Regions from separate parts of the Homo sapiens genome. Here region 1 is linked to region 2. The links come from fine-mapping of genetic effects on gene expression. A gene starts in region 2. The other region holds a variant in brackets. All regions are shown on one strand. Distances are from middle to middle.

Region 1 (12,018 bases), 66 kb after region 2:
AAACACAGTTAATGCTATGCTCCCAGGACACTCAGAAATGCAAGAGTTACAGGGAAACTGCCTCCCTGGAAGGGGCTAGGGAGGGGCTTAGGGAATTGGGGAGAGTCTAGCTGGGTTTATAGGATACCAAAGTTGTGACCCGCTAGATTACCAGTGTGAATGCATAGTAGTGTTTTGGTGGATGGTTTTGTGACAAGAAGATGTGAAACCCCACAGACAGTTTAGGATGATTACCAAATAGGAAGGGATATTGCTGTAGCTCTTTGTTTGGGGCAATGAAGTATTTCACTGGAGCTGCTTAGAAATAAAGTGTTCTGTTCCATTGAAAATGAGAAAAGCAGCTAACACCTACAAAGTGCATTCTGTGTACCAGTGAGAGAGCTAAATTCTTTGTTTAGACTAACTTATTATCACTACAACATTATGAGATAGGGGCCATAATTTTCCTCAATATGCAGATGAGGAAAATGAGGCACAGAGAAAAATTAGGATTATAAAAGAACAATTTCAGAATATCACACAGCAACTAAAAGAGTGGGAAGATTGAGGGCCTGCCTGAGAAATCCAGGGAAGGCATTTCCTATCAGAGCATTACTTGGTCGACCTGTCAGGATCAGAGTTGGGCTGGAGCTACCTGGAATTAAATTGGAACACTCTTTCCTATCCCTACCTTAAAGACAATGCTTGATAATCAAGATATTGTATGAGCATGAAGAGGAGAAGGAAGTAGAGAAAAAAGAGTCAATGCTATAGACCCTCATAGTTAATATCTACTGACACAAAGATGGATAATCAGGAAGCGGGAAGGGTGGTGACATGATTTGCCTCCATGTCTGTCTTAATGGGCAACTGTAGTCAAAATGCTTATCCCCAGTGTATTAGTCTGTTCAGGCTGCCATAACAAAATGCTGCAGACTGGGTGGTTTACACAACTGAAATTTATTTTCTCACCATTTTGGAGGCTGAAAGTCCAAGACCAAGGTGCCAGCAGGGTCCGTTTCTGGCAAGGCCTCTCTCCTCGGCTTCAGATGATGCCTTCTCTCTGTGTTCTCCCATGGTCTTTTCCCTGTGCACACAAAGAGAGAGCTCTCTGGTGTCTCTTCTTCTTGTAAGGCTATCAGTCCTGTTGGATTAGGGCACAACCTTTATGACCCCTTCAACCTTTATTATCTCCTTATAGGCCCTTTCCACAAATACAGTCACATTGGGGGTTAGGGCTTCAACCTATAAATTTTTTAGGAGGGGGATACAATTCAGTCCATGACACCCAGTTTTCAGATAAGAAAATGAAACATTAGCGAAGTCAGCAATACCTACCTCATAGAATTAAAAGAGATTTTGTATTTTGTCTGGCAGATCATGGGTGCTCAGTCAATATCACCTCCCTTCCTTATGTTTTAATGATCAGCTAAGGCGGGCGTTGATTTATTGCATGTTCAGCATAAGGAGGGGTCATGGAAGGTTAGGGAATGGATGGGGAGGAGATGAATGCTTCACTAGTTTTATCTTGCTGCATAACAAATTACCACAAATTCAGTGGCCTAAGACACCATTCATTTATAATTTGCATTTACCATGAGTTAGGAGTCCAGACATGGCTTACTTGGATTCTGTGCTCAGGAACTCATGAGGCTGAAATGAAGTTGCTGCCTGGGTTGCATTCCTTCCTGGAGCCAGAGTTTTCCTCTGAGCTTTTGAGATTGTTGACCGAGTTCAGTTCCTTGGGGTTGTAGGACTCAGGTCCCCATTTTCCTGCTGGTTGACAGTGGCTGGGGACACTGTCAGCTCCTAGGGGCCACTCCCATTCCTTGCTATGTGGACCTCTGATAGATTCCCTTGCAACATGACAGCTTAGTTCATTAAAGCCAGCAAGAGAATCTTACTCCAGTGTGCTGAAACAGTGTTTCAAGTAATGTCACATAATCATGGGGGTAACATCTCATCACCATTGCCATATTTTATTGGCTAGAAGTAAGTCACAAGTTCTGCCCACATTCACAGGGAGGGATTATACAAGGCTGTGACTCATTGAAGATTACCATAAGGTTTGTCAGCCTTTGGCAGAAAGGATAAAAGGGGTTGGTGCTGATGGCAACTGCCATCTGCTTTGTATGACATCTGTCATACATGCTGTGGGTGACCAAACTTGAAGATGGATTAGCAGCTGAAGAATGGCATCAAGAATGTAGTTGTTGAGTTTTCAGATGGCCTGAAATAATAGGGTGCTGAGAGTCTGAAAGATAGTAATCGAATTCCAGACAGTAGTCTGAAAGATAGGAAAGGAAGAAATTAGAACCTCTAAAAGAGTGTAAAACTCAGTTAGGGCAAATCACTACCACTTACTTGAAGACACAAACTAAACTGTCCTCAAAATCAAAATGAATAGATAAACTATTTTTAAAAAGACTCTATTGTCTTAATTCTACTAAGCTCAATGAGAGTGTAGCATGTGGGTCAGTTATGTAGTAGAAGTAGTGATATTAGATAGAGGTACAAACGGTCTATTTCTCATTCCAGGAAAAGTATTGACTTCTACAGGTGAAGAATACTGAGCTTCTCTCTTTCTGCCCATAGAGTTTGTTCTATACTTTTGAGAGAGTGCAACATTTAGCGAGGTGTAATGGAACTTCAGGAGTTTCAGAAAGGAATACATGATTTGATCATGAGGAAGAAGGACTGGTTGTGATGATGGCCCTTCTCTGAAGGTAGAGCCTGTGGTGGACCTGGGACTTGAACCTGGGGAGTCTGGCTTCAGGCTCTGTTTGAACTCTCTACTTGTTACTGATAGGAGAGTCACCTTGGTTCCAGAGCTGCTTCATTTCATAGTTTTAGTCCTTTTCTGAGGTTCAGGTGTATCCTTGTCCTTATATAGAATGTAATATCCCCTTATAATAAATTCCTTGTGAAGTTTTATTAAACATTTATTAAAGCTGGTTTCTGTTTCTTGCGTACAGAAATAATTTAACTAAGACAGTTGTTGACTCATAAAAGAAAAAGCAGTGAAGGCTTCATGATTGTTATTTCAGACACGAAAAGTCAACACGACTCTCCAGCTGTATAGAATTCAACAGGAAATGGGTTTAAGTTTCAGGAAAGAGCATTTTATTAGACCATTGGAGTCCATAATAAGTCTCTAGCCTAATAAGCAAGAGAAAATTATAGATTAAGTTCTTAGGATCTTCAAAAACCAGAAAAATTACAAACAAGTGTAAAGTAGGAGACTGGAGCTGAAGATTCTTTGAGGTCTTTTACACATACATTTCTAAAAATGAAAGACTGCATAATTCCAACATACTGGAGAGTAGGGAGTGGAGGGGTGAGCTTGTAGAAGTTCTTTGGGGACTGGCCGGGCGCAGTGGCTCACGCCTGTAATCCCAGCACTTTGGGAGGCCGAGGCAGGCGGATCAAGAGGTCAGGAGATCAAGACCATCCTGGCCAACATGGTGAAACCCCGTCTCTACTAAAAATACAAAAATTAGCTGGGTGTGGTGGCATGCCCCTGTAATCCCAGCTACTTGGGAGGCTGAGGCAGGAGAATCGCTTGAACCTGGGAGGCGGAGATGATTGCAGTGAGCCGAGATTGCGCCACTGCACTCCAATCTGGCGACAGAGGGAGACTCCACCTTAAAAAAAAAAAAAAAAAAAAGAAGAAGAAGTTCTCTGGGGACTTGGTTGGAGCCGGACCTGTCCGATATGGTTTCCAATCCAAACTTCACCTTTAAGGAAGTCTTCTCATGTAGGGAAACTGAGGTAGAAGGAATCATGCCTGCTGTGGTTTAAGTTTCTTGAGGTCAGGCACTTCCTCTTTTCCCAGCACTGTAGGAAGCAGTCATTTAATTTTGAGAATGATGACAACTGCATAATTAGTAGGAGGATATTAAGATAATAAATTGTGTTTAACTTGAATATTTTAAAGAGTTTATTAGTGTTTTACATTTTGGATTGGGGGTCAGATGCTTCATAATAATCTTAAATCACTAAATGAAGGATTCATGACTCAGATATTCTTTGGAAATCTTTGATATCACATGGCAGCCTTCAGCAGCCTTACCAGAACATTGTATTCTTGACTGGCTAATGCATTTTAGAAGGAACTTCATTTCTTTTGAGGTACTACAAAGAGTCACTGGAATGTTATCAGGTCCTCATGATATGAATTATGTAAAAAGTAGCCGCATTGATCTTGTTCTATAATGAAAAACTTAATGTCTAAAACCTCTGAGGGAGATTACCAAAAATTCTTCACATTTAAGATAGCCATTGGGATGCAAAATGTAGTCACCAATGTTTGCTGTGCTCCAAGACACTGCTAGATTCTTCACACTTATTACCAGTGTTTAGAAAACCTGTAGGAACAAGAATAGGGCAGCTCAGATGCCAAAGATCATCAAGCATTGCAAGAGAGGTAGCCAGAGAGATTTCATTCGCATAAATTAAAAAAAAAGTCTCAGTAAGCCGCAACTGTGGTTCTCTTTGTTTTGGTTCATGCGAGCATCTTGAAGACCAAAACTTTCTGGAAGCATAGACCTTCCCCACATTTTGTGACAGAGTGATGACACATACTTGTCATTTGAGAGGCACCATGCTATAGTGAAAGAAGCCAGATTTGGAGTCACCGGCTATACACTCTGTAATTTACATCTTCTGTTACCTGACCTCCCTGAGCCTTCGTTTTCTCATCAATAAACTGAGGATCAAAAGGATCCTCCCAAAGTTGTTATGAGGCTCAGTGGACCTCCAGAAGGGATGGCACTGATTAGCACTGACTAAGATTCAGTGATTGAGAATCACCAAATGACAGTGATATCACTGATTGAGAATCAGCACAAGCCATAGTCACCACTATCCATGGTGGTCTGAGGGTGGGCTCTCCTATCTGGCCACCTGTGGTCAGATCCTGAGCTAGCCTCTCAGTGGTTGCACAACCTTTGGCAAGTTAGGCATTCTGAGCCTCAGTTGTCTAAATCAGTAAAATGCCAATCATACAGTAATGACAGCTGTTTAACGGGGTTGTTAAAGGAGTGCGTGAATAGTGGAAAGTGCTTGCAATAGTGGAAATATTATAGTAGAACAGTGGAAAGTTCATATTAGGCCTAATAAACATTAACTTCTGCTACCACTGGGTAGTATTCCAGATTATACAGCTAAAATGCTTCAAATCAGAGATTCCAATTTTGGGGCTTTTCTTATCTCTAATATCCTAAGCCCAACCACCTCTTTTCATTTCTTAAACCGAAAGCTGTGGAAATAGTCATTTTTCCTCATAGGCATTATATAAAATATCACAGATCCTGTAGGTAAACAGTTATGTATAGTTTTTCTTGGCTCACTGCTTAAAATGGAAAAACAGAGGAATCTGTTGCCTTTCCTCTTGTTAATTTCGTGTGCGTATGGAGCCCATAGCTTGAGAATAATTGTCTTGAGGACAAGGGCAAAATCTTTTATCTTTATTTTATGCACAACTTCTGCATGATCTCAGTGGTTAGTTGAATAATTGTTGGTAGACTTATTTTGGATTGAGTCAATTTTCTATTCCCAGTGCTATAATGAGGTATAATGAGGTGTATGAGGGAAATAGGTAGTATTTTCATCCATTTGGACTCACTTCTGTTAACCCCACTTATTTAATTACTCAGAAATATTCATTAATTTAACAAATATTGAGGCTGCTATGCACCAGGTGCTTTGATGAGTACTAGGGAGAGTAGCAAGTCAGACATAGACCCTGCCGTCATGGGGCTTGAATTCTAACTTCCTATTATATACACAATGAGGTTCATATGATATTAAGAATCATTTAAATCTACAATTGTAAGGCACACTTAAATTTTGAGTATGTTTTGAGTTTATCATACATCTTCCCCTTTGTACCTTGTTCACCTTTTTAGGTCTCCAAATCACTTCCCTAAAATATTCCAGCCAATTTTCTTTAGTGCATTTCTGACATTCAAATAAAATTGTGGCTTTTAATTAAAAGGCAAGGTATTCCATTGAAACTTTTTCTATTAAATTTTAGTGGAACACTACAATAGTAGGTAAACACCAGACAAATGAATCCTATTTAAACATGGATAATATTCATCTACTTCTTTCTTAGAGCTTCCTGTAAAAATCAGGAAGACTCTTCAAACTTTACTTTCACAGGCCTGTACACTGCTGGAGGAAGGAGGTCCAAAGGGAAAAATAATTTGCAGAAGGAAAAACACCATGGAGATGGAAAAAAAAAAAAAAAAAACAAGTATTAAAACACTTGAAACAAAGGAATGGGTCACAGCTTGAAGAAGAGCTCTGGTTGAAGACCGGAAAACACCAGGGGTTAGCATAGCGGAAAACACATATAAACATATTTTAGTTTTGAGAAATGGCTCATAGGAAATTTAATGTCT[G/A]TAAAAAGTCCCCTTTTATTTCACATAGGAAGGAGGGTTAAATAGCACATTTAAAAGCACATTTAAAAGCACTGGGAAATCCCGTCCCCAAGGGTCTCAGTTCACTTGAACTCAGCTACCAGTTGCAGAGAACCTGCTTTGTACCAGGCACTGTGCTCCAGATGGAGACACAGGAAGAAGGAGGAGATCCAGTTCCCAGTCTGGAGAGGCTTCCGGTCCATTATGGAAGAAGATGTCTAAGCAGGAAATTCCTCCACACTGTGATCTGATTTGTGATGCAGGGAGGACTTCGTTACCATGGGTGTGCTTTGAAGGAGGTGTGGAGCCTGGGGTGCAGGGAGGGGGTACATAGTGGAATTTCTGGAGCAGGTGATGTATCTCCAAAGGGTGGGTAGTGGTCTTACATCAATTAACATAGTACTTTCATTTTGAAAGACTTTTAAGAAACTGAATGCGGACATCCATGAGATGATGCATACGACTGAAACTTTCCAAGTTGAATATTAAAGGTAGTAATCACATCCTGCGTCTAATTCCCTTCTTGCCAAAGAGCAGAGGCAAAACCATTGAACAACTGCATACAGTAATTCACCTGCAAATATGTTGATACAGGTTCTGCCAACTGTATTCTCTGAATAGTGCATTCTCCCCAGATGACTTTCTGTTAATTGGCAACTATGGGAGTGTCCTCCTTAGAGGGTTTTGTTGCCAGAACTCTTTCCTGTTGCCAAATAGCCAAAACTATCCTTGTGAGGGGAACTACGCATCAAATTTCTTTATTTGGTGGCTTTTCTCAGGTTCAAAGAATTCCCACAAGGTTATTTCAGGATGGCTTGAAAATAGATGGTAATTTAATTAACCCTTTCTCGGATGGTATTAATCACTCCAGTCTTGTCAAGAAGCAGATGCTTGTATCATTCACAAAATGTGTTGCTGATAAGATGGATTGGTGGCTTTTCATTCTCAGGAAATCAAACAAGTCACATTTATGTCAAAGATGGCGTGCACCGGTGACCTTCCCTTGGTTGGGGCAGTTTCCCTTCAGGAAAATGCTTAAGTGGTATACAACAGTTCTGAGAAAAGAAAGTAAGCATCTCTTGATTCTCTGAAAGTGTATCTGTTCTGAGAAATACTTAAAGATGATTAAATTTCTTGATAAATCTCTTTCACAACATTTAACCAACTTAAGAATTTGGGGATTTTCTTGATAGTATTCTTATTATAGAAAATTTTCTATTCATGCTTCTCTATCCTTTTACTTTTGCCAAAAAAAAAAAAAGATCAAAATAAAGGAAAATACAAGAAAAAGAAGCTTCCCACATTGCAATAGATAGAGCATATTGGGCCACTTTTCACTCTGCCATTGAGGTTCGTGTTCACTTTGGATATACCTACGTTGGAGCAAAAATATGGCTTGGAAGGGCTTCAGCCCTGTTGGAATTTCTACCCATCCTACTCCAAATAAATATGCAATCTAAATAAAAACTGGGCACTTGCTATGCACACACAGCTTCAAAAGGGGCATCCCTCACTAACAGAATGCCCTCCTGCTGTGTGCCAGCCAACCCTTTAGATATTCTAGGGCACATTTGGGAGAAGCAGCTGTGGCCCATGTCTTTGGAGTATAGGGCAGGTGCAGTGACATGAACAACAGATAACTGTTCTCAGCCTGGAGTGGTGCTTAAATTTCATACTTTGCCAGGGTTCCCTTGAAAAGTTAATGAGATAGAGTTGTTTAAATCCTATTAAGCTGTCATGGATGTGTTTCTGGGTTCTTTTTCTCAGTTTTACTCATCACGAGGGACTTGGTGCAGGACCCAATTTTAGACATGTGAATCCAATTCATAATCCTGTTGTTCTCACTCAGCTCATGGTGGGTATGTGGAAACAAGCTCTTACTTCCCACACCTTTAAAATGGCAATGTTGAGCAGTTTGTTGGTATGGCCTGCACCTCCTTAGAGGAAATCTATCCACATCTTTTAGATGCCTTCCAATGGCTATTAGTAGGTAGAGTTACAGGTTAAAATCATTGCCATTTCTGTACATATGGCTGAACTTTCTTCCTATATACTCAAACATAACTTGGAATTACATCTTGATTGTGTGTAACAGGAAAGCTTTGGTTCCTACTGGGGTTATTGGAGATAAATTAATCTCTGCAGGAATAGTAGGAAGGGTACTGGAGCTTTGGGTAATGAGAAGAAGGGTTGAATCAGCTGAGAAAAAAAGCCACTGGGCTGGATTCTGGCTGGAAAGTGAATTGGACCCTTGGGGGTTTAGCAGAATCTATCCAGTTCTAGCCATGGGGGCCTCTGAAGCTGCACTGTGTGCCTGGCACTAGCAGACAGAGAGACGCCTTCAACTCCTGGCCTCAGACACTAGGACGAGGGTGGAAGCTTGGTGCTCTTCTCTTTTTCCCTTTGACTCTTACCCTTTGCCTTCACTTGGTGTCAAATTCAGGTCACTGTATGACCCTCCAGTGCCCTCTGATCCTGCTTCTCTCTCTTTGTTTCCCCAAATCTCCCCACCCCTCAGCCTCTGGTAACCACCATTTTACTCTTTGCTTCTGTGAGTTTGACATTTTCAGGTTCCATATATCAGTGAGATTATGCAGTAGTTGTCTTTCTGTGCCTGGCTTATTTAATTTCACACAATGTCCTTCAGGTTCATCCATGTTTTTGCAAATGCAGGATTCTTGTTTTTCTTTTTAAGGCTGAATAGTATTCCACTCTGAATATATATGACAATTTTCTTAATCTATTTATTTGTTGATGGGCCCTTAGTTTGATTTCATGTCTTGGCTATTGTGAAGAATGCTTCAGTGAACATGGGAGTGCAGATATCTCTTCAACATACTGATTTCCTTTCCTTTGGCTGTATAGCCAGAATTGGCTATTATATGTAATATAATGTAATAGCTGGATTACATGTTGGTTCCATTTTTTTTCGAGGAGCTTCTATACTATTTTTCATAATGGCTGTGCTAATTTACATTCCCATCAACACTGTGTAGGCTCCTGTTTCTCTACATCCTCTCCAAAGCTTGTTGTCTCTGTTTGCAGATGACATAATCTTATATGTAGAAAACCCTAAAGACTTTACAAAAATAATCTTAGAACTAATACATTCAGTAAAGTTGCAAGATTAAAAAATCAATGCAACAAGAACCAAGCTGCACCCCTAGAGTGTTGCATAGATGCCTGTGGCAATGAGATGCAGGGCCATCAGAGGGCTGTTAGGATCCAGGGCTTGCTCTACCTGGCACTTGGAAGTAAGACTGGTCCTCAGTTACTCCCAAAGTTGGACCAAATGAGTCCCTAGTCACTTGAATACTTAGATGGAGAGCATGTCTTAAGAAGGAACTATTAGATTTTCTGCTTATAGACCATGTCTTAAGTGATTAACCAAAGCTGCATGACTGTATTTGTCCCTTGTTTTTAGACTAGGTCAAACTTTTTAATTACCTTGACTGTACATTAAAATCACTTGGGGAAGATTTATAAAGTCTGGGTCCACTCCCAGAGATTCTGATTTTGTTGGTCAAGGCAGTGTGCCCTGGGCATATGGGTTTCTTGTTTTAAAAACTCCCTGCGTAATTTTAATGTGCTGGCAAGGCTGAGAACCATGGGACATAACATAGAGGCTGCATTAAATGTTTTAATACATGTAAAGTACTCAGAAGATTACTTGGCACATAGAAGATACACAACAAATGCTACTGTTTTTGTTGTTATTATTGGCACATGGCTGAACACCAGATCAAACATGGAATACATAAACAGAATATCTCAACACTCACACACTAATCATATCCTGACCAAAGACCAGGATTAGATCTCTAACTGCTGGGAACAGTTATCCACTTAAGAATTGTGTTTCTCTTTCTATTTGGGTAATTAGCACTGGAAAGGTGGGCCTTTGATGTTTGCCTTCCAAAAAGAGGTTTATTGGCACTGGCTTCTGAAATGAGAAAGTCAGACTTATGAAATTGAAATGCTTCTGTATTTGTTAACACCCCCAGGTCTTGGAAGAAGACTTCAGATGAATAATGGAGCCCTCAAGAATAGACAAAAATGGAAGGACGTTTGCCAATTATACTTCCTTGATGAGGATATTAGTGCAGGTTAATTTGCAATAAGTACATACCTATTATGTGTAGGTCTTCATGGGAGACCCAATGGATGACATACAAACTAAAAAACCTAAGCTTCTCTATTGAGTTTATAATATTGATCCATAACATATATAAAATGTGAGAGTCAAGTTTATTTCATATGCTTAAATAAAAATCATTGGACAGTTTAAGAGTTGTGTAAAGTTGATTCACTTCCTGTAACAGATTTTTATCCACTCTTTTCTTGTTGGTCATGCACTACTGCATCAAATATGTCATACAAAACATTTTAATGGACTTCTCATCCTCCTTCCTCTTCTTTTTTTTAGAGAAAAAAGAAACTTTCACATGGGAGTAGAAGAATACTTTTTCATCTGATTTTTACTATTTTAAGCTTTAAATGTTTAATACTGTCTTCAAAAGTTGTGGGTCGGGTGCAGTGGTTTGCGCCTGTAATTCCAGCACTTTGGGAGGCCAAGGCGAGTGGATAACTTGAGGTCAGGAGTTCGAGACCAGTCTGGCTGACACGATGAAATCCCGTCTCTACTAAAACTACAAAAATTAGCCAAGTGTGGTGGTGGGCACCGGTAATCCAAGCTACTCTGGAGGCTGAGGCAGGAGAATTGTTTGAACCTGGAAGGCGGAGGTTGCAATGAGCCGAGATTGTGCCATTGCACTCCTGCCTCGGTGACAGAACAAGACTGTGTCTCAAAAAAAAAAAAAAAAAGTTGAAATTGCTCAAGTAAACAAATCATTTCAGAATAAGCTGAAAGATGAACTATCTTTGTATTACCTTAGCAGATTCCTATTTTCATCTTACTCAGTACTGTAGTAAGATTTTTCTATTGTCTTCTATTGGGGTTAAGGTGAGGCAGTTTAGCCTGTGGCTAAAGAGTATTGTATACTTAAGAGGTATCATTTAAGATTTTTCTTACAAATTACTAAACTTTGGTTGAACTGTCACAGGAAGGACAGGCTGGAAATATTACACAGTAGCTCAATCGCTCACAATGGAAAAGAACACAAAGTCTCAATGCAGGAGACTGCAATAGCTTTTTGGCTCCAGCTCAGAGCGTAGCCTGGCCAGCCTCTCTGGTGCCTTTTTTTAAATATAAAAATGGAGACCGTCAGTGTTGACAAGGTTCCTTTGGCTTATTTGTGTTGACATGGCTGCCAGTGATGATTTGTTCTCATGAGAGCTGTGAAAGGTGACACTTCCAGGGTTACTTTGCAAACAGCACTTTCCAACTTAATTATGCCAACAGGTCTTTCCTGTAAATTAGCATTGCCAAGACAAAACCTTGGCAGAGTTGAGTTTCAATAGTCATTCAGTAAGTCATTCACTCGTTTGTTTACTTAATTCATTCAGAGGAGTATTTATTGAATGCATACCTCTCTCAGTGCAGAGAGGTAATTGGCCAGGCACTTTGTTAGGCACGGAGATCTGACAGAGAATCTGGGCAGTCCTCACTCTGCTGCTTCTTATTTGGGTGGCCCTGGGACAGTCACTTGGCCAT
Region 2 (12,018 bases):
TCCCTACCCCGCCCCAAAGGAAAAAAAAATCCTGGGAGCATGGGCATTCCTAACTCAGCAAGCTCTCCCCAGAGTTCTGGCCAGACATGGTTTCTTGCCCTTCAAATTTTTCTAGGTGTGGTTCTGATCCCAGTCCTCTGTGTCCAGCAGGTTACAGGCCACAGAGACCACTGAGACTCTCAAGTGATCTCTGTGAAGCACCCCCTCACTTCCCTTAACTTGAGAAGAAAGCAGCCCATTCCCCACATCTTCCCCAGGAAGGGGAAGAGAAAACATCAATGACTCTTTCTTAAAAATCCTCTACTTTTAATTTTTAAAAAACACTCTTCATGTGGGAAAGGGGCTCAAACCTTTTGTATTTTTGTCTTGGCGCTCAGTCTAAACAGAAGGTGCAATAGTGGATAATTCTATTTCTTCCTCACAACAACCTTATGAGATAGATACTCTTATGCCTCTTTAAGAGAGGCACAGAGAGGTTAAGAAATGTGCCCATGGTCACACAGCTAGTAGGAAGAACCAAGACAGGCCTAGGCAGCCTGACCACAGAGCCTGTGCCCTTAAACTATATGCTGTACCATCATCTGATCTGAGTTCCTGACACTTGGATTTGCCATCTGCGTACTTTTAAGCCCATCTTTTAAAACTACACTCACTGACATGTTGATTTGTCTTATTGCTTCTGGGAGTTCTGTGTCACCTTGTCAAAGTTTCAGGAATTACTCTAAGCACACCACTGATAGCTCTTGAGAAATGTGGTTGAGATACATTCAAGAGCTTTAGTTTAATTGTCTGGAACTCTTTTTTTTTATTTTTTATTTTTTATTTTTTTTTGAGACCGAATCTCACTCTGTGGCCCAGGCTGGAGTGCAGTGGTGCGATCTCCGCTCACTGCAAGCTCCGCCTCCCAGGTTCACGCCATTCTCCTGCCTCAGCCTCCCGAGTAGCTGGGACTACAGGCACCTGCCACTACACCTGGCTAATTTTTTTGCATTTTTTAAGTAGAGACGGGGTTTCACCGTATTAGTCGGGATGGTCTCGATCTCCTGACCTCGTGATCCGCCCACCTCGGACTCCCAAAGTGCTGGGATTATAGGCGTGGGCCACCGCGCCTGGCCTGTCTGGAACTCTTGATAAGAATCTTGGAAGCAAAGTCTGTGTTCCCACGGTTATTCACAAACACACTCATTAAGTCAGTCAACTCCTCACTCTGGTTTCCTTGGTGCTAACTGTGCACAGGCATGTATGCTCTTAGTTTGTTCTTTGCATGTGCTCAGCGATCATGCATTCAGTCAGTCCTGAATGATCACACACTCGCCCCAGGCCTTGGGGTTGTCTCCCCAGTTGGTACTTGAGCTCTTCAAAGCAGGAATCTATCTTTTACTTCCTTGGTCTCCTGTCCTCATGCTCCCAGGTGGCACATTTCTGGCCCATGCTGGCCTCTCCTGCTGCATCTTCTACCAGGTTCCTTTTTGTTCCTTGACAGAGTCCCCATAGACTTTTTAGTTCCTCATTCTTGCCATCTCTCTTCCCTCCCCACTTTCTTCCTCCGAAGGATCTTTCCACAGATTACCGTTGGCCAGAATTCTCTTACCTTCTCACTTCATCTGGGCTAATTCCTGCTCAATCTTCAGATCCCAACTCAAGGATCACTTCCTCTAGGGGGTCCTCCCTGATTTCTCTAAGGAATTCAATCCCCTTAATATTAACTTTCCTAGCATCCTTTCTCTTTTGCAATATTTGTCATTCTTGCAACTTTAAACACACAATTTTGGGATTCTTGTCTGCCTCCCTCACCAATGGTAAGGTCTATAGAGGCAGAGGCAATGTTTTTCTTCTCTCTTTTTTTTCTTTCCCTTCTCTTTTTTCAGCTCTGGGTTCCAATGCCAGCTCTGCCATGTACTAGCTGTGTGATCTGGGGCAGGCTGCTCCAGCATTCTCTGCTTCAGTTTCCTTATTGTATAATGGGGATAATAACAGAGCCTATCTCAAGGGCTTTTTATGAGAATTAAATAAGATAAACTTTGCAAAGTACTTACAGCAATTCCTGAGGCACTTTTAGGTACTATGCAAGTATTTGTTAAATAAATATCAGGTTAAAAATGCTTGAATAATACATAACAAAGGTGAATTAATACCAACTTCACTGTTAATTTTAGGAGTTCTGGTTCTTCCCTCTTAACCCCCTTTGGGTGATATCTAAGCAGGACCTGCTGATAGCCACATCCTCCACAGCATAGCTGGTGTTACAGGGAGGGCCTGGGGACCTTACTAAGGACCTGTCAGATATCCAGCCCTGTTTTATTTCTAGTGATAGGAATGCTAAAAAGTATGTGTCCAGGGAGGGTGACTCAGGGCATTAGAAGGGATGATCCACTGCTCGAGTTCCCAGACAGAACTTTTCAGACAGAATTTCTGGGAAAAGCAAAACCAGTGGTGGGCACTGAGGATTTCATTTTGCAATATTCTGCCAGACCCAAAGCCTGGTCTGCTCAGGAGGGGGACAGCCCAGTGGATTATGGGAGATTTCTCAGGATCCTGAGACAATTAATGATGCTACTTTTGACATGCCTGAGGGTGGCTAAAACTGAAACACAGAGCAATTATGCAACCCAGCCAGTCACGTAGCATCAGCAAGGCTGAGCTGGGTCAGATTTCTGGACTCCAGACTTACGTTTAATCCGATGAGATTCACAGCCATGCTGTTATCCCAGCATAGACTTTGTTTAGTCACAGAAGCTGTTAACATAATTTCAGAGATGTGTGGCCAGGGACTCCTGGGTCATCTGGTAAAAATGACGTTACCAGGAAATGAAAGTACTCAAAGCTCTAGAGAAAGTGTGTGTCAGGATCAAATAGGAAAAAACAAACAAACAAACAAACAAAAAAACCCACATTAAAACAAGAAGACCAGAACAGGCTTATGTTAGTCTGTTCTCACATCGCTAATAAAGACATACCTGAGACTGGGTAATTCATAAAGGAAAGAGGTTTCACTGACTCACAGTTCTGTATTGCTGGGAAGGCCTCAGGAAACTTACAGTCATGGCGGAAGGCAAAGGAGAAGCAGGTACCTTCTTTACAGGGTGGCAGGATGGAGTGCGTGCAAGCAAAGGAAATGCCAGACGCTTATAAAACCATCAGGTCTCGTGAGACTCAGTCACTATCATGAGAGCAGCATGGGGGAAACAGCCCCCATGATTCAATTACCTCCACCTGGTCCCACCTTTGACACGTGAGGATTACAATTCGAGGTGAGATTTGGGTGGGGACACAGAGCCAAACCATATCAGGCTGTATATGTAGGCAGAGAAACTACTGTACTATGGACAACATAGGTATACGGTAAGAGTATTACTGCTTCACTGATAACTTCTAGAACATGCTGAGGTTGGTGCAGCCTCCAGTACTTAAAATAATATGAATTCAGAAAAAGACAACTTGTAGTTCCACGTGTGTATTTATGTGTGAGTATCTAGTTATGTCAGAATTCACATTTTTTTTAAAAAAAAAGTTTTATGAAGACTCAAAAGAAGTTGGAAAAATGTCCATCTTTCACTTCCTACTCTTTCTCAGTTTCTTTTTGTTTTCCATTCAGTGAGACAAAAGGTAGTGGAAAAAGAATGGGTTTTGGAGTTGCATAGATCTGGGGTCAAGTACTGACTGTACTGCTAGTGATTTGACCTGGAGCAACTTTGCCTCTTTGACTCTTTGACTTTCAGTTTCCTTATCTATGAAATGGTTGTAATAATACCTGACCTCACAGGACTTATGTGTACTTGGTATATGATAGACACTAAGCTAGATTTGAACTGCAGTGTATCTTAGACTCATTTAAAATACAAGTTTAAAATGGATTTATCAAAACAGAATAATATCGATGCAAAGATAGACAGATAGATCAAAGGAACAGAATGAAGAGTTAAGAAATAGACCTGCTTATATAAGGTTAATTGATTTTCAACAAAGTTTCCAAGATAATTTTAAATAGGAAAAGGAGTCTTTTCAACAAATGATGCTGGAGCAATTGGACATCCATAAGCAAAACAAAAACAAACAACCCCTCCCCAAAATCCTTGACCTATATCTTACATTTTAGACTAAAATTAACTTGAAATGTATCATAGACCTAAATGTAAGGCTGAAACCATAAAACTTCTAGAAGCAAAACAGGAGAAAATCCTCATGACTGGGTTAAGCAAATATTTCTTTGATAGGATTCAAACAGCACAACCAAAAACATTTAAAATAAATTGGACTTCATCAGAATTAGATATGTTTGCTCCTGAAAAGACACTGTTCAGGAAATGGAAATGCTAGCCGAAATTGATTTATTTCTTTAACATTGCTGTCTCCTAAAACTGAGGCCCGGGGTAGATATAATTAATAATTCTTGTGCAGTCCCATCCTCTCCCGACAGAGTGCACTTTCTAGATGTACCCTCTCTCCCTCATTCTTTATGCCATTATTCAGTGCCATCATTCTCGCAATCCCTGTCATGAGTGAGGGCTGGGAAGAAGATTGAGCTATGCATTTTGAAGTTGGAATTCCCTTCTCTTAAATTCCATTCCTGGGAGTGACAGACAGGGGAAGGAGCAGTGATAAAAAGTCTGGAGTTAAAAGTCTGGAGATGGGCACACACATGACAGGAGGCAACCTGAAGCCCTTGGGAGCAACAGCGTACTCCTAACAATGACAACTAAACACAGGCACTGAGCATGTGCATTTGGCCAGACATGGTGCTTTCTTTGCATCATTTCATTGAACTATTTTATTCTGTTCTGTTCTATTCTATTCTATTCTATTCTATTCTATTCTATTTATTTAGAGATCTCGCTCTGTCACCCAGGCTGGAGTGTAGTGGCATGTTCAGACCTCATTGCAGCCTTGAACTCCTGGTCTCGAGTGATCCTCCCACCCCAGCCTCCCAAGTAGCTGGGACTACAGGCACTCGCCACCAGGCCTAGTTAATTTTTGTATTTTTTTGTAGAGATGGGGTCTCACTGTGTTGCCCACGCTGGTCTCAAACACCTGGGTTCAAGTGATTCATCCACCTCAGCCTCTTCAAGCATTGGGATTACTGAACTAAGACACTGCAGTTGGCCTCGTTTAACTCTAGTAGAAATATCCATGCAGGAAGTATGTGGGAATCGGGGCAGCAGGGACTCCAAGCAGGCACCCCAGAATTTCTTCTGGGCTGTTCCTTCCCTGACTCCTGCAATTAGTCCTGCTTTTCCTTTGGCTCTGACTTGCTTCGTCCTTTGGAATTCATTCTCGATGTTTCCCCACACTCATCTCTTTTCTTGGTTGTATTCCCTTGGGACTGTTGGCTCAGGTTTGGGGATTTATTATGTTTAAAACTTCAGCCTCTGTTTGGCTTCCTGGCACCAGGCTTTGTACTTCCTGCTCCTTGAATCTGGTAACTCCTATCCCCACCTCCTTTCTGCCTACTCAAAGCTTCCAGTCTTTGGTGTTGGACAATCCCTGGATGATGACCAATCTCGTATGTCCTAAGGTATACAATAAAAAATACCAGGGTCAACAATCAACAGGCATCTCTTTCTTGGGCCCATCTTGTTCTAGTGTCCCAGACATTCCAGTGTAGGCTTAGATATAGATGGAAGTGTTCTAGTGTTTATGATGGACACCTGTTGAAAAGACCAAGTCTACCATGGCTGAGGTAGCTATGGAGGGTTTTACGTATTAACACAATGGTGAGGGTATCTTTACTGGTGTGAGCACAGTTCCACTGTATGGATGATCGTGATGCTGGAGTGGTCGATGGTTGGTACCTCCAGTGCCAGCTGGGGATTTATGGATGAACACAGGTGAGTAGTCAAGTGGGAAAAATGGCAGCATTCAGTTCATCTTCCTATTCTTCCTCCAGGTGTCTTCTTAGAATCAGGATCAGGTGCAAACCCAGGGGGGTTCCTGTAGCAGCAGTGAAAATTCCAGTGCCTAAGCTATATATGTTCAAGCAGGTCAGGTGGATGTCGCATGCGTCAGTTTGACTACAGCAGAACCATGAGAGATGTTTCCTTTAGAGTTGGCCCACAAGACAGTCTGGCTGCAATCCACAGGCCACAGACAACTGGAGGGAGTGGATCTCTCCCAGTTTCCTTCCACTTAGCATGAAAGCCTCAGAATAAGCAGCCCAGGGAGCAGAGAGACTGACATTAAAGCCTGCAATTCCTCTTCCAATTTTGATCACAGCAGCCATTTAAACACAGGGTCTACCGAGGTTTAAAAAACTTGAACTGTGCTTAGTTGCACTCTGAAATAGTCCTGCTCCTCCCCTGACCTACGAGAGACAGCAAAGAGACGTGTCAATAGCCTCCGCATGAGGCTTCAGAGGAGCAGCTGTGTATGGCAGGACGGAACAAAACCTGCCCATAGTATCTTTTACGACAACATGTTTCCACTTAATGCAGACCACTGAAAAGAATGTGGGAGCTTTTAAAAAAAAATTATTATAAACATAGGTTTGTGACCTTGATGTGGAAGGCAGCTAGAATCTCTGCTTTTAGAGGGCTAAGCAACACCAGGCAGCCTTCAATCTTAGAAGGGTTAAGCTGAAAGGGTCTCAAAAGGTCACGTGGTTTATATAATCCTACCTGCAGAAGACCCCCCCCCCCGCCAGGCACAACGATTTTACAGACGAGGAATGTGAGGTGCGGAGAGGTTAAGGAAGGATTTATCTTATTTGCATAAGGAGTGGAAGAACTGAAACCGAAGCCCCAGTTCCTTGACTGTAAATCCCGCACTTGCTTCCAACTGTCTTTCATCCAGATTATGGGATTCAGCTGCCTCTGAAAACCTGTAGCCCAATAATGGTTATTCCCCAGGAGCCGCGCGAAGCATGAGCTAATTTTCAGTGAGCGCGGACTTTGGGGTAACGGTTCCAGCACAGCACATCCCTTTCTCCTCTTTTCACTCATCGTCACCGCTACCTGAAAACCCTGGCCGGGTGCTGGGGCTTGAGGAGCAGTTCCCACTTCCCAGTCTTTTTCACTTTTCACAGCTGCAAAGTTCAGGGAGTTGAACTGCAGTGCTTTCAGTTCACTGCTCACTCTGCCACGATCAATCTCTGTTGTAAATTTTCCTCCCAGAGCACGTGACGATGCACTTCTTGACTATATATCCCAACTGCAGCAGCGGAGTTGTCAGAGCGCAGAGCCGGACAGAGCAGAAGAACCCTCTTGGACTGGACGATTTGGGAATTCAAAACTTGGGACAAACTGTCAGCCTTGGTAAGTCAGCAAGGCTACACTTTGCTTTCAGAAACATTTGAAAGAGGGACATTTTTGCCAATTAATAGATGAATTTTTTTCCTTTATTTTCTTCCTGCTTTTCTTTGTTCTAAGGAAACATTGTTTTGAATTTAAAATAGTTTGGTTTTGGAAACACAATGTAAACTTTGTTTCTGCTCAGTTAAAATACGTTTCCCAGTTTTAAAGATACTATTTACTGTATGCTCCTGTCTTACATTGATTTTTTTTTTAATCAAAGTAATACTGCTCACTACAAACAGGACAAATGTGTACACTAAAAAAAAAAAAAAAAGTCCTTCTTACTTTTCCCAGTGAACCTTCCCGGGCTTCTCTCCCGTGCACTCCAAGCCCTCATAGCTCACTCTTGTCAGCTGTTTGGCGAACCCTCTTATGCTATTTCTTTCATGCACTTTTAAGCTTTTTTGGTATTGCAGTTCCACAAACCTCGTGCTCCCCCACCTCCCTGTGCCCAGGACCTGGGGGAGAGTTCTAACCTGCGGCTTTTTCCCCAGCCCCTGCTGTGGAGGCAGCCTCAATGCTGAAAATGGAGCCTCTGAACAGCACGCACCCCGGCACCGCCGCCTCCAGCAGCCCCCTGGAGTCCCGTGCGGCCGGCGGCGGCAGCGGCAATGGCAACGAGTACTTCTACATTCTGGTTGTCATGTCCTTCTACGGCATTTTCTTGATCGGAATCATGCTGGGCTACATGAAATCCAAGAGGCGGGAGAAGAAGTCCAGCCTCCTGCTGCTGTACAAAGACGAGGAGCGGCTCTGGGGGGAGGCCATGAAGCCGCTGCCTGTGGTGTCGGGCCTGAGGTCGGTGCAGGTGCCCCTGATGCTGAACATGCTGCAGGAGAGCGTGGCGCCCGCGCTGTCCTGCACCCTCTGTTCCATGGAAGGGGACAGCGTGAGCTCCGAGTCCTCCTCCCCGGACGTGCACCTCACCATTCAGGAGGAGGGGGCAGACGATGAGCTGGAGGAGACCTCGGAGACGCCCCTCAACGAGAGCAGCGAAGGGTCCTCGGAGAACATCCATCAGAATTCCTAGCACCCCCGGGACCCCTGCCGGTGGCTCCATCAGCCAGCAACCTTAGAGAGAGGAAAGACAGTTTTCAAGTGTCTGGTTTCACTTTCACAGTGCGGCTGCCACTTTGAAGAGACCCTTGGTAAACCCCTGATTCGGGGTGGGGTGGGGGACTAGGCTCAGCCGGAACCAGCACCTCCAAGGAGTCCGGGAGGTGCCTGTGGTTTGCACCCACCACTGAAAAAGCCGCGGAGATGCGCAGCGCGTACACTGACTTTGGGGCCTGGGTGTTGGGGTTCTGATCAGAATTTGGCGGGATGATATGTTTGCCATTTTCTCACTGGATGCCCTGGGTAGCTCCTGCAGGGTCTGCCTGTTCCCAGGGCTGCCGAATGCTTAGGACACGCTGAGAGACTAGTTGTGATTTGCTATTTTGCCTAGAGCTTTGTCCTTCTAGATCTGATTGGCTGTAAGTATCTCTACTGTGTACCTGTGGCATTCCTTCACAGTGGGTTACAAGCTTCTTTTGGATTAGAGGGGGATTTTTGATGGGAGAAAGCTGGAGATCTGAACCCAGCCCATTTGCACACTATAAGAAAAAAAAGTAACTTTTAAACCTGTTAACATTGGCCGGGGTTATAAGAGATGATCTTCTATTTTGACCTTTTGTCTAACTTATGACCTTGAACTCTGACCTGTGACCATGCAGCATCACATGATGGCATGACGTTCTTTGGATCAGAAGAGCTTCCCCAGAATCTAACCTGCACTCCCGATGGTGGTTCAGGAGACTCTTCCTGATCTTTCTAGAAGGGGTAAAGTGGGGTTGAACAAGGCCAAGCCGTTAGCTCTGCTGCTGCTCAGTTTCCCAGCCTAGTTTTCTGAGCTGGGAGAGGACATAATGTGGTATTTCGTCACGTAGCTGAGACCTAGAAGGGCATACTCAGGCGGAGATTGCACAAAGCTGGGCTCCAAGTTCTGTGCTTCCTGATCCCGAGCCCTGACACTCATTTGCTGTGTGGTCCCGGGCATGTCATCAAGAAGCTCGCTGTCTGCATGAGGCTCCCGACGATCTCCATCCCCAGGGGGTTGGGAGGATGTCTTTAGATTTTAGGACTCTGTGATAAATATTCCACAGCCTGGTGTGAGGAAGCTTGGACCAAATGCTTCCCCTTTGGCCGGTTAGTCTGAACAAGGATCTGCTGATTTAAAGGAGCAGTTGGAGATTCAGAACACATATAACTGGGGAATTCAGGGCAAGCTACCAACCCAGCCCTGCTGTAGTTTTCCCAGGACTGAAGGAAAGAGGCAGACACCACATTCTCCTCTGCAAAGTTCTCTGGAGAATGTGTGATGTTAACACTCCCAGCTAAGGGAAAGCAAAGTCTAAAGGAAAACACACAGGAATGCTTCCAATGTCTCCAAGTATTCCTGTGGTCAACAGTTTCGCAGATCCGTTAGGCCCTTAAAGACAAGGAGGAAGTAAAAGGTCAAATTTAAATCTATTTAAAAAAACTTTTAAAAAAATTATTTATTTATTATTATTTTTTATTTTTAAGACAGAATCTCGCTCTGTTGCCCAGGCTGGAGTGCAGTGGTGCAATCTTGGCTCACTGCAACCTCCACCTCCTGGGTTTCAGCGATTCTCCTGCCTCAGCCTCCTGAGTAGCTGGGATTACAGGCGCCTGCCACCACGCCCAGCTAATTTTTTGATTTTTAGTAGAGATGGGGTTTCGCCATTTTGGCCAGGCTGGTCTCAAACTCCTGGCCTTAAATGATCCTCCCACCTCGGCCTCCCAAAGTGCTGGGATTACAGGCATGAGCCACTGCACCCGGCCACTTTTTTTTTTTTTAAAGAAAAATGCTCTGCATGGATTGGAGACACAGCAATAACTACTGTTGCCATGGAAGGGTTAACAGTGTAGGAGCTGGTTTATCAGTCCGCTTTGACATACAGCTAAAGGAAATTTATGTTTGGGGGAAAAAGGCCCTCTGTTCACTTTAAAATTCAGTGTGGACTTATGCCAAAGGGGGCTGTTTAAGTTGAAAGAAGCCAAGTTAAGTTTGGCCTCTTGCCTGGAATCACTTGAATTCTGAAATTTCACTGCGACGGACATGTGCCTTGTCACATTTTCCATTGCTTAATCCTGAAGTTTGGTGCAAGTCTCTCTGCACCTATTAAAAAGTGATGTATATACTTCCTTCTTATTCTGTTGAGTTGTATAGAATTGTCTTTTGTATTTAACACTTTGTAATTTTCACAATATTTTTTAATTTAAATAAATAAACACATTTTTTCCCTCCTGGGAAGTCATGAATTCTTTGTTTGATTTTTCAATATAATTGTTAGTTTCGAAGACATCACAGATACGTTTCCCAAGACATCTCTGGATTTTGCTCCTCTCCCAAGTCAGTATCTCCTGAGGGCGTATCTTATTTCTGTCTGAACCATGGGGTGAATGAGGCTTGGCTTTTCATCCTTTGAAATGCTTTGTAATGAATGGAAAACAAGCTGCAGATGGTCTTACATGGACTTCTCTGTTTAAATATGGCAGCCCTGGAGTCTTTGGACTTTGAACATGCAGTGACAGGTCAACTGCTGCTAAGATGTTGCTCCAAGCTTGGTTGCAAGAAAACGTTTGACCTGTATGTTGGCTTGGCAAATATTATCCACACATGTGGCCCAGCAGCACCTGCTAATGGGCAAAGAGCTGCTGTATGAACAGCAACACAAACTTACCAACACAGTGAAGCACGACGTGTGGGGCTGGGGTTGACTCTCCTCCCTCTCCTGGTCTCCTTCAGACTGGGACTGATTCCAGCCCCTCCCACTTGGTCTGTCTGTATCTCTTGCCCACAGGCTGAGGCCGTGGCCAGCCTGCGGCAGCCTCTTCTTCATAATTTTATTTGCATGACCTGTTTTTGAATCAAGCAAATGGTAGGAAGCATCCTTACTTTTATGTTTCTCTGTTTCCTGTGAGATTGGCTTTTCTGTTTCAAGTAAGTGTTTCCCTTCAGTTCACTAGTAACTGTCTACCTAAAAAATTTACCTGGCAACAGTACAGTGGAGCCTGGATCCTTCCCAAACAATATCGAGGGCCCTGATCCATCAGTTGGTACTTTGATGATGTAAGATGAGAAGATTGCTGTAAAAGGCAAGAGAGCCTTTCCATTTGTCCCAGTTTAATGTCGTTCTTCGTAAGGAAATGGTTAAGAATTTTTCTATTTTTTTAAGCCATGGGTGGAAGGAGAGGGAATTCTAAACTCTAATTGTCCTAAAAATATGCAGAGTACACTTTGTCGTTTTAATGGGATATTTGTTTTCTTTAAAAAAAAAAAAGAATTTCTAAGCAGAACCTAAGGCCCAAGGGGTTTAGTCTGTGTGGATTTACTCATGCATGTGAAAAACTGAGAGGATAATTTGGCCCTGTGCACCTAAGATATTAAAAACATATTTTGAAAGCACTTAAATGTTAGGGATGAGGTAAATGGATCATCCTGCCTGCTCCACACTGTTCTAATTACACCTTTGTACGTCAGAGTCAGGCAGGGATGTTACACAGTAGAAGATTTCTTTCACTGGTAGAATCATGGGATCAAATCTACTGGGAAAGGCTGAAGTCAGGCCAAGGAATGAATGCTCTTGGCTCATGATTCTGGTTGGAAAGTGGACCCCCTGGTGCCTTTCAGAGCTGCAACTGGAGGGTTTCATGGTCAGACATGCAC

What was found. PIP is the estimated chance that this variant, and not a neighbour inherited with it, causes the effect.
Region 1: its variant is the best candidate, but not a certain one, in a credible set for the expression of KCNE4 in lung (TOPMed, PIP 0.52).

The regions. Positions count from the first base shown.
Region 1 is chr2:223,111,330-223,123,347 of GRCh38, forward strand. It overlaps LOC124907986 (a long non-coding RNA gene), which reads left to right. Exons shown (of 2, transcript XR_007088096.1): 2 at 10,409-10,692. LOC105373905 (a long non-coding RNA gene) reads right to left here and starts at 1,041. Exons shown (of 3, transcript XR_923950.4): 1 at 952-1,041. The variant G/A (reference allele first, on the strand shown) is at 6,387.
Region 2 is chr2:223,045,028-223,057,045 of GRCh38, forward strand. It overlaps KCNE4 (potassium voltage-gated channel subfamily E regulatory subunit 4), which reads left to right and starts at 7,163. Exons shown (of 2, transcript NM_080671.4): 1 at 7,163-7,247; 2 at 7,781-10,610. The coding sequence starts at 7,804. The coding sequence ends at 8,316. RefSeq lists enhancers at 3,759-3,818, 7,471-8,018.